Homo sapiens: one gene and its partners. The protein of the gene in region 4 interacts with the protein of the main gene of each other region in a pairwise test. Each region holds a gene or a part of one and is shown on either strand. Other genes may lie near its edges.

What was found.
Region 1: the proteins of TGFBR2 (region 4) and KEL interact in binary tests that used the Homo sapiens proteins (3 or more experiments, as listed by UniProt).
Region 2: the proteins of TGFBR2 (region 4) and RHBDD2 interact in binary tests that used the Homo sapiens proteins (3 or more experiments, as listed by UniProt).
Region 3: the proteins of TGFBR2 (region 4) and WT1 interact in binary tests that used the Homo sapiens proteins (3 or more experiments, as listed by UniProt).

Annotation. Positions count from the first base shown.
Region 1 is NC_000007.14:142,942,989-142,945,363, forward strand, and holds part of KEL (kell blood group glycoprotein), read right to left. Parts: intron 1,754-2,375; coding exon 1,655-1,753; intron 1,413-1,654; coding exon 1,335-1,412; intron 896-1,334; coding exon 795-895; intron 609-794; coding exon 498-608; intron 356-497; coding exon 288-355; intron 57-287; coding exon 1-56. UniProt on the Homo sapiens protein: Zinc endopeptidase with endothelin-3-converting enzyme activity. Cleaves EDN1, EDN2 and EDN3, with a marked preference for EDN3.
Region 2 is NC_000007.14:75,885,534-75,889,033, reverse strand, and holds the end of RHBDD2 (rhomboid domain-containing protein 2), read right to left. Parts: intron 1,043-3,500; coding exon 685-1,042; 3' UTR 108-684; downstream 1-107.
Region 3 is NC_000011.10:32,415,040-32,418,539, reverse strand, and holds part of WT1 (Wilms tumor protein), read left to right. Parts: intron 1-885; coding exon 886-963; exon of another isoform or gene 964-1,116; intron 1,117-1,999; coding exon 2,000-2,050; intron 2,051-3,500. UniProt on the Homo sapiens protein: Transcription factor that plays an important role in cellular development and cell survival. Recognizes and binds to the DNA sequence 5'-GCG(T/G)GGGCG-3'. Regulates the expression of numerous target genes, including EPO.
Region 4 is NC_000003.12:30,686,601-30,690,100, reverse strand, and holds part of TGFBR2 (TGF-beta receptor type-2 isoform B precursor), read right to left. Parts: intron 1,718-3,500; coding exon 1,590-1,717; intron 1-1,589. UniProt on the Homo sapiens protein: Transmembrane serine/threonine kinase forming with the TGF-beta type I serine/threonine kinase receptor, TGFBR1, the non-promiscuous receptor for the TGF-beta cytokines TGFB1, TGFB2 and TGFB3.

The DNA of each region.
Region 1 (2,375 bases), on a different chromosome or scaffold from region 4:
CAGGTGAGCTTCCTGGAGGGCATGGTTGTCACAGGCGAGGCAGCCCCCAGGCAGTACTGTTGAAAATGGGACAAGAGAACATACAGCAAGAGAACATAGGGTTGGTGCTGCCTAGGTGAGGATGTGGGTGGTACCACAGACTGAATCAGCTCCCAGGAGCATGGCAAAGTTCCCAGGACTGCCCCACCTCAAACCCTCAAATAACCTCCCTTTCCCCTCCAGGCCTCCCTTGTGGTCTTCCCTTAGGTTCCCTATTATCCCACCTCCCAGTGGCCCCTGTTACCCACAGAGCTGGTAGAAGATGTGCAACAGCTCGTGGGCCATGATGCTGCCAGCAGCGCCAAAGTTCACGGCTCTAGGGAGACAAGGGCTTATTTGACCCCCAGAATCTCTCAGCATTTGTGACCCCAATTCTCCAACCGTAAGTCCCATCCATCATAACACCTGTCGGCCCCTCTTGGGAAACTCCCTACCTACCCTTACAGAGTGACCCATACCTGGGATAGCCAGGGTGGAAGAATGGGGGTTGGAGGAGTCCAGCTGGAAAGACTACCACATGGTCAGATACCGAATAGTAAGCATTGACGTCCCAAGGGGACACCTTCCACCTGTGGGAAGAGGACATGTGAACTCCAGCCCCCACCACGTATTGCCCTGCCACCCTGAGACCTACACAGTCCCTCCCAACTACCATTACTGTTCATGCTGCCTGCCCTGAGCCCTGGCTTCCTTTCCTGTGAATCATGGATGGGTCTCTCTGGGATGGAGTGCCTGTGTCTCCCCTGCTGTCATACCTGTGTTGGGGGTGAGGCTGCAAGAAGCTCTGGACAATTCTAGCTCGGAGGGACCGGACACAGCTCAGGACAGACTGCAGGAAGCTCGATCCAAGCTGTATCTGGGGAAGAGGCAGGAGGTGACTTGGGCACACAGAGACTTCTATAGATGCACGCTGACAAACACCAATGGGACCATTTGACCCCAAACAGGCAAGCCCTGACAGGCAGGCATCCAGGGATTAGGAGAGAGCAGCCCAATGGCATCACTACACAGCACACCCAGGCTTTACACATATCAGCACACAGATGAACACGCCCAGACAAGTCACAGGATGCATGCATGTGTGTTGGCACATGCGTTGGGACCTGAAAAGATTCTGTTCTTCTGCCAGCAAGACGTACAGTGTGGATATTTCCCCATCAACCCCAGCCAGCACCAGAGTAAGGACAGAGCTAAGTCACCCAGGGAAAACTGATTGTCCAACAAAGACTTAGGAGGGTCAGAGAAGTGACGAGAAGTCAAGGACTGAAAAGGAGCTGGAAAACACAGGGACCCACATCGTTGTATTCTTGTCGGGCCAGCTCTGGCTTCAGGGCCCATTCTGAAGCCCCCATCTCCACCTGCAGTTGAGCAACCTGGAGAGAGACACAGAAGAGGCTAGGAATACTCTCCGAGTCTACCAGAGGAAATTTCTCCCACTCGTTGCCCTGTCCCAGCCTCTCACATTGTTGCCAGTGTGAGTATACAGCCCAGTGGCTTCCCTACTTAGCATGTGCCTGGGGGGGCCTTTGGCATTTGCTTCCAATCCCCATCTCGCTTGTTCCAATACTCCATTCCCTGCACAGGCTCCCACACCAGCCAGGACGCCTGGCCTGACCTTGTCCTGGGCCATGTTCTGGGTCTCCTCATTCATCCAGGGAAGGTTTCTGAGGCGAGTGATGAGGGCATCCCGGATCGCAGTGAATAATTTCATGGCCTGTGGGAGTGAGGTCCAGGGACAGGGGGACAGGATCAGGAGAGGCCTCAGCCTGGCCCTGCCCACAGCTTCTGACCCTTGGAAAAGGGCTTGGCCCCAAGGAGCTGCCTGGGCTGGAGCTGCTGCTAGAGGAGCAGCTCAACTAAAGCAACTAAAGGATCTGTGGAGAAAGGAAGGCAGTGCCAAGCCCACAAAGGGAAGGTGGGGCCTGGCCATCCGTGAGGGCCATCAGGGAGATATAGTTCCTTTCCATGGGGAAATAGCCTGACACAGGAGAAAGACAGTGTCCTCACTCCTGGGGGCAGGAACACCTCTCAGAAATCAGAGGGAGGAGAGGGCTGTCATTTTCTCCTCTGGCTCAGGGCTCTTGTTCTCACACTGTCTTTTTTAAACCGTCCACTCCCTCTCCTCATCCTCCTGAGCTCTTCAGCTTCCCAGCAAGTCCCCCACAAGTCTCCCTGCCTTCACAACGTGAGTGTGTACTCACTGCTTCCCCAGCCACCTGCCATCTCATGTAAATCCTTTCCTGGAGGAAAATGAAAGGCAATATCGAGAGCCTGGGCTCTGGCATCAGAATGCCTGAGTTCAAACCCTGTCTCTGCTTTTTGGTAACTGTGTGACT
Region 2 (3,500 bases), on a different chromosome or scaffold from region 4:
CTGGTGCATCTCTCCTCTCTGCCGCCACACCACACATTGCCACTGCCCAGATCTCAGCGCACTCCCTCTTCCCCAGCCAGACCACAAAGGAAGCACACGCCAGCACGGCAGGTCAGAGGCTGTTTCTTTATACAAAGGCAGACAACATGGACACCTCAGCATGCTGCTGCAGTTCATGGGGGCCCATCCCACCGCTTCTGGGGAGAGGAATCGGGGTGGGGGCGCCCGCAGCAGGGGAGAGACACTACACAGGCCTGGGACCGCCAAGCACACCAGCTGCGAGCTCCTGAAGGGCAGACACATGGACACACGGACACTGAAACCACGAGCACGGCACAGCCACAGGGAGGAATGGTGGAGCTGGGGACAGACATCGGCAGCTACTGCCAACTGCTGCCCTCTTCTGCCACGAGTTCCTTGGCGAGGAGCCTTGTCCGTGTTACTAAAGAGCCACGTGACTTTATCTGATGGCAGAACGTCTCGCTTTCTGCATCTGTAAGCTGGGCCAGTACACCGTACTCCACAGGGCTGCCGTGAGTACAGATGAGACTGAAACAGGGGCATTGATCAAAGTACCCAACACAGAGCCTGGCACATAGAGGTGTTCAATAAGTAACTTTTGTCAGGAGACTCTTAGGGAGGACCTTCAGAAGGCCAAGTGAGATGACTTCCCTAGAAATTCTCTCAGGGCATGGGGACCCTGGAGGACTCCTTGGAGCCTGCAGCCCCTGGTGTGCCCAAGGCCCCAGAATACACCGTGCCAGGGCTGTTCACAGGCGTGGGGGGCTGGATGCCCAGGGAGGTGCCCGCAGAAGCTGGGTAGACACTGGAGGAGGTGGGGTTTGGACCAAAGTGGTTCTGCACATAGCACAGGCCGGAGGCAGGCTGGTACGGAGGCAAGGTGGGCATGTGCCCGGGGGTGCAGGAGGGCCAGGAGGCCAGCTTCTGACCACTGGCGTGCTGCGTCTGGGACACAGGGTGGCTTGGGGACAGGTGAGGGTGGCAGCTCTGTGTGGGGTAGGAGCCAGGCACCGGGTTCAGTCTGGAATGGAACAAGAGAGAAAATGGTCCTTCAGCGAGTCTTGGCAAGGTCATGGCATCTTGTGCTTGAGGTTGCCCCCGCTTTCTAGTACAACATGCCTTGGATGTTTTCTGTGACTTGCTCTAAGTACCAAGTGGGAGAAAGGTTAACCTCAACCAATCAGACCACAGATGCCCAGGGAGGGTGGGGCCAGTTGCAGTCCTGCAGCAAGGGAGTTGTATGAAAGGACACTGGACCTGCCACTGAGACCACCGGAGGGGTGACCTGCTCACAGCAGCTTCTAAACCAGATGGAGCGTTGGGACCAGGTCACAGCTGCCAGTGCCTGTGTGGCTGGCTCGACAATTCTGCCCAAAGAGAACGGATTCAGGCTGGGCATGGTGGCTCACACCTGCAATCCCAGCACTTTGGGAGGCCAAGGCGGGTGGATCATCTGAGGTCAGGAGTTCGAGACTAGCCTGGCCAACATGATGAAACCCGGTCTCTACTAAAAATTAAAAAAAAAAAATTAGCCAGGTGTGGTGGCAGGCGCCTGTAGTCCCAGCTACTCAGAAGGCTGAGGCAGGAGAATCGCTTGAACCTGGGAGGCAGAGGTTGCAGTGAGCCAAGATTGTGCCACTGCACTCCAGCCTGGGTGACAGAGCAAGACTCTGTCTCAAAAAAAAAAATTGTTTTTTTTTTTTTTTAATTAGCCAGGTCTGGTGGCATATGCTTCTAGTCCCAGGTACTTAAGAGGCTGAGGTAGGAGGACTGCTTAAACCCAGAAGTTTGAGGCTGCAGTGAGTTATGACTGTGCCACTGCACTCCAGCCTAGGCAACAGAGCAAGACCATGTGTAAAAAAAAAAAAAAAAAAAAAATTATCTATCAACAAGAGCCTCTGAGGAGACAAGCTGTCCAAACGGCCATCTTGCTGACAAAATAAACATGCGTGTCATGACATGGCCCTGGACCCACTGTCAGGCTGCCTGAAACACAATATTCTGAGTGTCTGCAGCAGGCACCAGACCTGAGGGACTGGACTCCATGTCACGTGGGGAACACAGAAGGAACACCATCTTCCTCTTAAACCCTAAGATCTGCCTGTCACAGTGAGGCAGGATCAGACCTGGCACTGGGTGTGGCAGTGTCTGTGAGGCTGATTGCAATTCAGCATGGAAGAACTCTTTTTTTTTTTTTTTGAGACGGAGTCTCGCTCTTTTGCCCAGGCTGGAGTGCAGTGGCGCGATCTCGGCTCACTGCAAGCTCCACCTCCCAGGTTCACACCATTCTCCTGGCTCAGCCTCCCGAGTAGCTGGGACTACAGGTGCCCACCACCGCACATGGCCAATTTTTTGTATTTTTAGTAGAGATGGGGTTTCACCGTGTTAGCCAGGATGGTCTCGATCTCCTGATCTCGTGATCCACCCGCATCAGCCTCCCAAAGTGCTGGGATTACAGGTGTGAGCCACCGCGCCCGGCCCTTCAGCATGGAAGAACTTTCTCATCAGGGCCAGTCTTGGAGAGTGAGCTCTTGTATGTGAGATACAGCTGGAGACCACCATCAGCTATTACAGAGGGGATTCCTTGGTGACAGACAGTTCTCCAGATTCAATGAGAACAACTAAAACCCACAAAACACCTAGTCCTAAATGTACAGTCTCCCCCACATTGAGACCCCAGGAATTACTTGCCTGAAGCAATAATGCGGTGAGTCCGCATTTCTGTTTTCCCAGCAGCCCTCCTGGCCTTTTAGAAAAATAGTCCAAGGGCTCTGAGCTGTTGACAGCTGGGAGCACCTCTTGGAAGAAGCTCTAAGGGCAGCTTCCTATTCAACAAAAACCCCACATCCAGGCCAGCGTGCAGGGGAAAATTTACTCCACAGCTGGTGGCGGGCCAAAAAGGGCCAAGGACCAAGCACCTTGCCTTCTGATACACTTTGGATGTTTCCTCTGCTCCAAATCATGTGCTGAAATGGATCTTTAGCCGGGTATAGTGGCACGCGCCTATAATTCCAAGTACTTGGGAGGCTGAGACAGGAGAATCACTTGAACCCAGGAGGTGGAGGTTGCAGTGAGCTGAGATCACGCCACTGCACTCCAGCCTGGGCCACAGAGTGAGACTCCATTTCAAAAAAAAAGAAACGTGATTCCCAGTGTTCCAGCACTAGAGGTGGAGCTCAGTGGGAGGCGTCTGGGTCACGGGGGCAGACCTTGCGTGAGTGGCTTGGCTTCTTCCCCGTAGTAATGAGTTCTCCCTCTGAGTTTAGGTAAGAGCTGGGTGTTTAAGAGCCCAGCACCTCCCTCCCTCTCTCAATGTGTGGTGCCGCCTCCCCTTGCCCTATGATTGGAAGCTGCCTGAGGCCGGTGCCATGATCCTAGTGTAGCCTACGAAGCCATGAGCCAAATAAACCTCTTTTCTTATAAATGACCCAGGCTCAGGTATTTCTTTATAGCAATACAAAATGGATGAACACGCCTTT
Region 3 (3,500 bases), on a different chromosome or scaffold from region 4:
AAAGTGTTTAGACCAAGAGGTCCCAGAAAAACTCTTGGTCTCTTGGGTCTCAAATTTCATAATTAACCATTTCAGTTCAGGCATAAATTTATTCCTGATGGAGCTTGGTAATTTAGGAGATTTCTGGCAATTGATTCATGTGCTAATTTTCTAGGAATGAGATAAATACAGAGGGGACAGAACAGCTTTTTGTTGGTTTACATAGCGGTGTAAGACTTCTTTGGAGTCTTAATGTAAATGATAAGCCATTTCCCTCATAGAGTCTTATAGAACTGGGCTCTTTTTTTTTTTTTTTAATTTGACTTGTACCAGGATTATAAAACATATAGAAAATGATTCCTTCCGCTGTGCATAGAGTTTATCATCGTCTTTCTTCTGCTTGTCACATCCTTGCTTTTTAGACCATTTATCACCCATCACTCTGACTTTTCAGACCCTCATAATCCACATGATACTTATCCTTTTGATTAAAACAACTTAATGGCCTTTTCACGAATAATTAATCTGCTGTCTTTACTTTCAGCTCCAGGCTTTTAACTTTAATGTTGAGTTATCCAGCCTGTGTTGCCTTTCAAAGTTTCACTCCCCTTAGCCTTTTCCCCTCAAAGGTTTAATACTTCTTTAGAAACTTCAATAGTTGCTATACAAAGGTTTTAAAAAATGCTTCTGAGTTACTCTCACATCCCTTCTGCTGTGTATGAAGTGTATAACTGTGCAGAGATCAGTGGGATGAAATGAAAATAATTCAGATTTGCATATTCTGTCATTCTGGAAAATGTGGAGGCTTGCACTTTCAAGAAAAGTTAAAACTCCATTGCTTTTGAAGAAACAGTTGTGTATTATTTTGTGGTTATGTGTTTCTAACTCTAGATGTTTTTCTAACAGTGACAATTTATACCAAATGACATCCCAGCTTGAATGCATGACCTGGAATCAGATGAACTTAGGAGCCACCTTAAAGGGGTAAGGTTTTCTCTATTCCATTGCCTTTCCACAGTAACTTATACCTGTTTGAACCATTTCAAAGGTGCTTAGAACTTATGAAGAAAGTACAGTTTTAGAAGAAAGGGCAAAGCTCTCTGTGACATTAGAACGCTTTCCTCCTTCCCCTAGTTGGTGAGTTGTGTTCAGTATTAAATTTTCAAAAACATAAATGTGGGTTGTTTCTATCTGGAACAAGGAATATTGAGGACACTTATTATGGTCTTGTTGAATGTTTTATAATTCTTCAAAGGCTATTCAACCTCATTTAATAATTGTGTTTTACTATGATATCACAGTTGTTAACCATTCCACTATCTTATCAAGAAGTGCTTTGGGTGTGCAAAGTCCGGGATCCAAATTTGTATTTGTGTGATGCTGATCTGGGCAATTCACAGTCAGATACGCCCATACCTGATTGCACCAACAGGGTTTTTCTTTCCATACTTGATAATACAACCATAATAGGGAGAATACAGCCAGGAAACATCAGAAGGAGCTACTCTTTGCACCTAAAAATGAAAAAATAAAAAAAAGAAGGCAGGTGGGACTTGCTTTCACCATTGAAAGAGCTCACTTTTCATTTTCTACCAAGTGTGAAGAGATGGGCAGTAGCATAGAACACTCATGAAGTGCCTGCAGCGTGTCAGGTGTCCTTCCAGGTTACCTCATCTTATCTTCCCAACACTCTCATGAGAGCTAAGTACTGCTTGGTTTACAGATAAGTAAACCAAGCTCAGAGGGTTAAGTTACTTCCCAGGTTCACATCCTACTAAGTGCTAGAGCTGGGATGCCAAGTCCAGATCTGATTCCAAAGCCCAAGCTCTTTGCAGCCTCCGGTGGTGCCTTCCACCCCACCATTGGCCCCAGTGGGACTGGGGACTTAGTTCAGCACTCTTGATAGCTAGCTTGATGTCTCTGTGTATTGAGGGGCTTTTCACTGGATTCTGGGATCTGGGGGGCTTGCCAGATCCATGCATGCTCCATTCCCCACTCCCCACCTCTTCTTCTTTTCTAGAGTTGCTGCTGGGAGCTCCAGCTCAGTGAAATGGACAGAAGGGCAGAGCAAGTGAGTGGACAATGCGGAGATGGCAAAGCAAATGGCGTAGGCCTTGCTGACTGGCACCTGGGGCAATGCAGGAGTTAGGACTGACGTGGGTAATCAGGGTAGCATTTGGTGGATGGGAAGAATCTCTCTCCCCCGCCCCCACCTCTTCTTATTCATCATACACATGCTGGGGACAAAATGGAGGGAGTAGCATTTCTCATCAACATGCCCCTGGAAAACAATGTAAAAAATTATGCAGCATCCTGTTCATTTCTTTGTGAATACTTCACAAAATACTAAATACTAAATTTGTGGCATTACAACCATAATGCCACATGTTCCTGTTAGATCAGTCAAAGCTTTCAGTCTTAACTTGCTTCTTCTTTATTTACCTTTAAATCTCTCAGGGAGAACTTACCCTAAGTCTGAGGCCAGGCTTTGAAAAGACTTGTTTTTTGTTGTTTTTCAAAGTTTGTTTTTATTCCCAAACATTCGCACCTTCCCCAGCCCTGTACCCTGCACCTTGGGGAATTTCTGTAGCTGTTTCTTTTTCTTCTCTCTGCTTTAACTCCACAACCAGCCGCCCTCTTTTCTTCTTTATTGTGTGGGCCCAGTCCTGTTATTTGGTTCATCCTTCAGTAATCAACAGAGTTGTATTTCATCTTCCAAGACTTACTGTTAGGTTCTTCACCTCACCCCCGCCCCCAAATTTTTCAGCAGTTTTATCCAGATCTCCTCTTCCTCTCTCTGGACCACAAAGAAAAGGCTTTCTGTTGTTTTAAATTATTTCTCTCCTGTCTTCCATCTGGGGGACTGCTGACAGTTTTAGCATTCTGTCTTTCTACCCATTCTCTTTTCTTTTTGAGACGGAGTTTAGCTCTTGTCGCCCAGGCTGGAGTGCAATGGTGCCATCTCGCTCACCGCAACCTCCACCTCCCGGGTTCAAGCGATTCTCCTGCCTCAGCCTCCCCAGTAGCTGGGATTACAGGCATGTGCCACCACGCCCGGCTAATTTTGTATTTTTAGTAGAGATGGGGTTTCTCCATGTTGGTCAGTCTGGTGTCAAACTCCCGACCTCAGGTGATCCGCCCACCTTGATCTCCCGAAGTGCTGGGATTACAGGCGTGAGCCACCGTGCCTGGCCTTTCTACCTGTTCTTAACTCGTCTTAAGTTCCTTGGCTTCTTGGTCCCACCCTTTCTTTCTGGCTCCCTTCCTTTTCTCCTTTCTCCTCTCCTCAGAACTTGATAACCTTCCCCAAGCTAAATAGCAAGGATAGACAGAACATGATTGTGAAGTGAGCAGTACATTTCAGTTTCAAAAACTTCTTCATGCTGTAATACAGGGGCTTGTTTGTTCAGTTACAAAAATTACAGATAAGGAATTTGGCATGTATTTGCAGCTGGATATTTCCATGGTTAAGATAATTTCGATACTTTTTAAGGTCTTTAGACATGTACTGTTAGTCACTT
Region 4 (3,500 bases):
TTTTCTAATACCAACAACTTTCCAAACACACCTAGGAGCCTATCTCTCCCTCCCCACCCGATGAGTTCATGATGTTAAATTAATTGCATAATTCACCTAATTGACAGTATTGACAGATGGCCCTGTTAAGAGTAGAGTGCTATTGTTGGTACACAAGTAACATTTATTTTATTCTGGCACTGTAATTACAGGCAGTAAATTAAATTAAATATTAAGCATTAACTTGAAATCAATAGGGCAACAAATCTCATTATGAGAAAAAATGTATTATGCAAATTCTTTTCAGAATTTTATCATCATGAATAATGGCATCATTACGAGAACTATACAGCAGAGGAGGCAACAGAGTTTGAAAGAAACATAACACTCCAGCACATTCTGATTTCAGAATTTATGCAAAATATTCTTACAGTTTTAGTGTCAAAGAGGATTTGCTCAAAACTCCAGAGAAGCCTGTGACCCACCACAGCCTGGTTCCCCCTCGCCAACCTCCTCGGACTTTATTAAGGTCTGTCTGCTGAAGTGGCTCTGGGCCAGGACTGGCACAGACCAGACTTCCTGCTCCATTTGTCTTCCCGATTGTGCCTGATTTGTTGTTTCTGTTTCTTATCTGAATTTGCCTTGCCCTTAGGGAAACCAACAACTTAGCCTCGGCCTTCATGGTTGAGGGAATTCATCCAAAAGAGGCAATAAAAGGTTTTAGTCAGTAGAAAGAACAGTCTTCTCAGTGAGATAGGGCCACACTGTTCTCTCTCATTCTTCACTAAGGGCTCCTTCCTGGGTGTGTCAGACATATAGCTGGTTCTGACTCACTCACAACCTATCGTTTTCTTTTTTCTCTGACCATTGCCCTCATCAAAGTGCCCCCAAACAAACAATTTGGATCAGCCTCTTTATGAGTCCAGAATGACTGCCCTGCTATGGACAGCCTTAGCTAGCATTTCTTAACAAGGAAAAATAAGAGGCCATTAGGATGTTCCCAACAGACAGATTTCTCGTTCCTTCCAGGGCATTCTCCTCTTCTTTGCTTTCCTTAATTCCAGAGTGAGGAGTCGGTCTCCTCTTTCCCACGCGTGCTCACTCAGGCCTCTCCCAAGTCTGTGAGCACAGCCTGCAAACACCTGTACACAGCCTTCTGCATGCCACAGTCACTTCTCACTACAGCTGCCTGACAAACCCTGCTTGTTTTGCATCTGCTAAGTATTTCCTTATGGAGCTGAAGATTCCCAGAAGAAAACATTTGGAATCCAGAGGGAATCAAATATAAACTCCTGACGTGAAGGCCCAGGAGTAAGTAGCAGAGGCTGCAAACAAAATGTTTTAACCCAGGACCAAGGGGGCTTGGAAAATGTGGCAAATGTCCTCCGAATGGCTATTTGTGAACTCTCAGAGTACATATCAGCTGGTTGGAGCCTATAATAATTGGGTTATCCACTGTATTGAAATTTGCTTTATAAACAAAATTTAACAGGGCCATAGAACACAATGGGACCTTCCCTCAGATTTAAGCTCAATATTCCAGAATTCTCTGCCACCTAAGAGGCAACTTGGTTGAATCTTACTGACCTTTGTAAACACTCACTCCTTACCTGGTGGTTGAGCCAGAAGCTGGGAATTTCTGGTCGCCCTCGATCTCTCAACACGTTGTCCTTCATGCTTTCGACACAGGGGTGCTCCCGCACCTTGGAACCAAATGGAGGCTCATAATCTTTTACTTCTGTGAAGAAAGCCAGCAAACACAGGGTCACTGAGAATGGCATGTGCAGCCAAAGGAAATGAGCATGGTGAGATGCCTGGCTGGGGAGCATGAAGCACTAAGTAACAAATACATACGTAATTACTCTAAGAGCAAATTTTAATAATAATGGCTAAGATAAGAAGGAAGGAGTGGTTGGGGAAGGGCTAGAGAAGTATTCAATAAATGATTGTTGAGTACTTAAAATGTGCTAGGTGTTACGCTGGGGGACACAGTGGACAACAAGATAGAGAGGGTCACGGAGCTTAGGTTTTAACACAGGCATTTTCTACAGGGGGATATTGCAGCAAAAGGGTGAAACTGGTTCTTGGGAAGTGGAAAAATCTTATGTATTACAATGGTTTGTGAGCCTCCAAAGGCCCAGAGTATACAAAGAGATTTAAAATGTGGTATTAAATTTCATGTAGGTATTGAGGCATAAAAAGGAATGAAACTCTGGCACATGCTACAACATGGATGAATCTTGAAGACATTATGCTAAGTGAAATAAGCCAGACACAAAAGGACAAATATTGTATCATTCCACTTGTATGAAGTACCTTGTACAGGTATATTCAGAGACAGTATAATGGTGGTTGTCCAGGGGGCAACCTGGGAGGAAAGGGTACGAAAAGTTATCCTTTAAGGGGTAAAGAATTTCAGTTGAGCAAATTTCAGTACAGAAAAATGAATAATGGTGATGGTTGTAGAGCACTGCGAAGGTACTTAATGCCAGTAAACTGTACACTTAAAAATGGTTAAGATGGTACATTTTATATTATGCCTATTTTGCTACAGAAAAACATCATGGAGAGTAGTGTTTAGAAAAAAAGTTGTCTACAGGCCAGGTGCTGTGGCTCATGTGTGTAATCCCAGCACTTTAGGAGGCTGAAGGAGGATATCTTGACTCCGGGAGTTTGAGACCAACCTGGGCAACATAGCGAGATCCTCTATCTATACAAAATAAAAAACAAAACAAGCAAACAAAAAAAGTTGTTTAAAAAGGCTCCTTACGATATCACTGATTTTAAAAAAGGTTGAGAAATGCTGTTTTAGTGGGAAGACAGAGGGGACAGATTAACAACATCAACAAAATTTTAAAACGATAATTTTCCTCTGATGGTATATTCAATAAAGAAAATGATAAAGGAGGAGGTAACCCTTCACCGGGGCCTCAGGCTTCAACTAAGGTCAAATTCTTTATAAAAACTTCCTTGAACATCCTTAGGGTCAATCTTGGTTAGATATCCTGGGCAGGGCTCTATTCGTGCATATACCATATTTTATTTAATATATTCACCTGCTTATTTTTCTCACCTAACTGGACTGTGAGCATTTGGGTGCAAGTTGAGTCCCTTTCTCATTCTTGTATTCTTGGTGCCAATTGCAAGGGTCTCCCATGCCAACAGGCTGTCAACAAATGCTTTGTTGAGTGAGTGAATGAATGAATGAATGAATGAATCTTAGATTCTCTCCAAAGTGGCAGTGCATAAACTCTGGCCAAACATTAAAACAAAACACCAATTTAAATGAGCAGATTAATATAGTGTAAACAGAGCACAGGACACTTAAAAAGATAGAAAACATCCCAGTACTAAAACATGCCTGGGCTGAAAGGAGAGATTGGGCTGGATTCAACACTGTTCTCCAAAGTAAGTAGGATCTTTGGCCTTTAGCTTCAAAATAATCTTATTTAATGAGTAAAACTTTCAATACATTTGCACTTCTAGGTAACGAATTGAAGAAGCTTTCATGGCAAGATGAC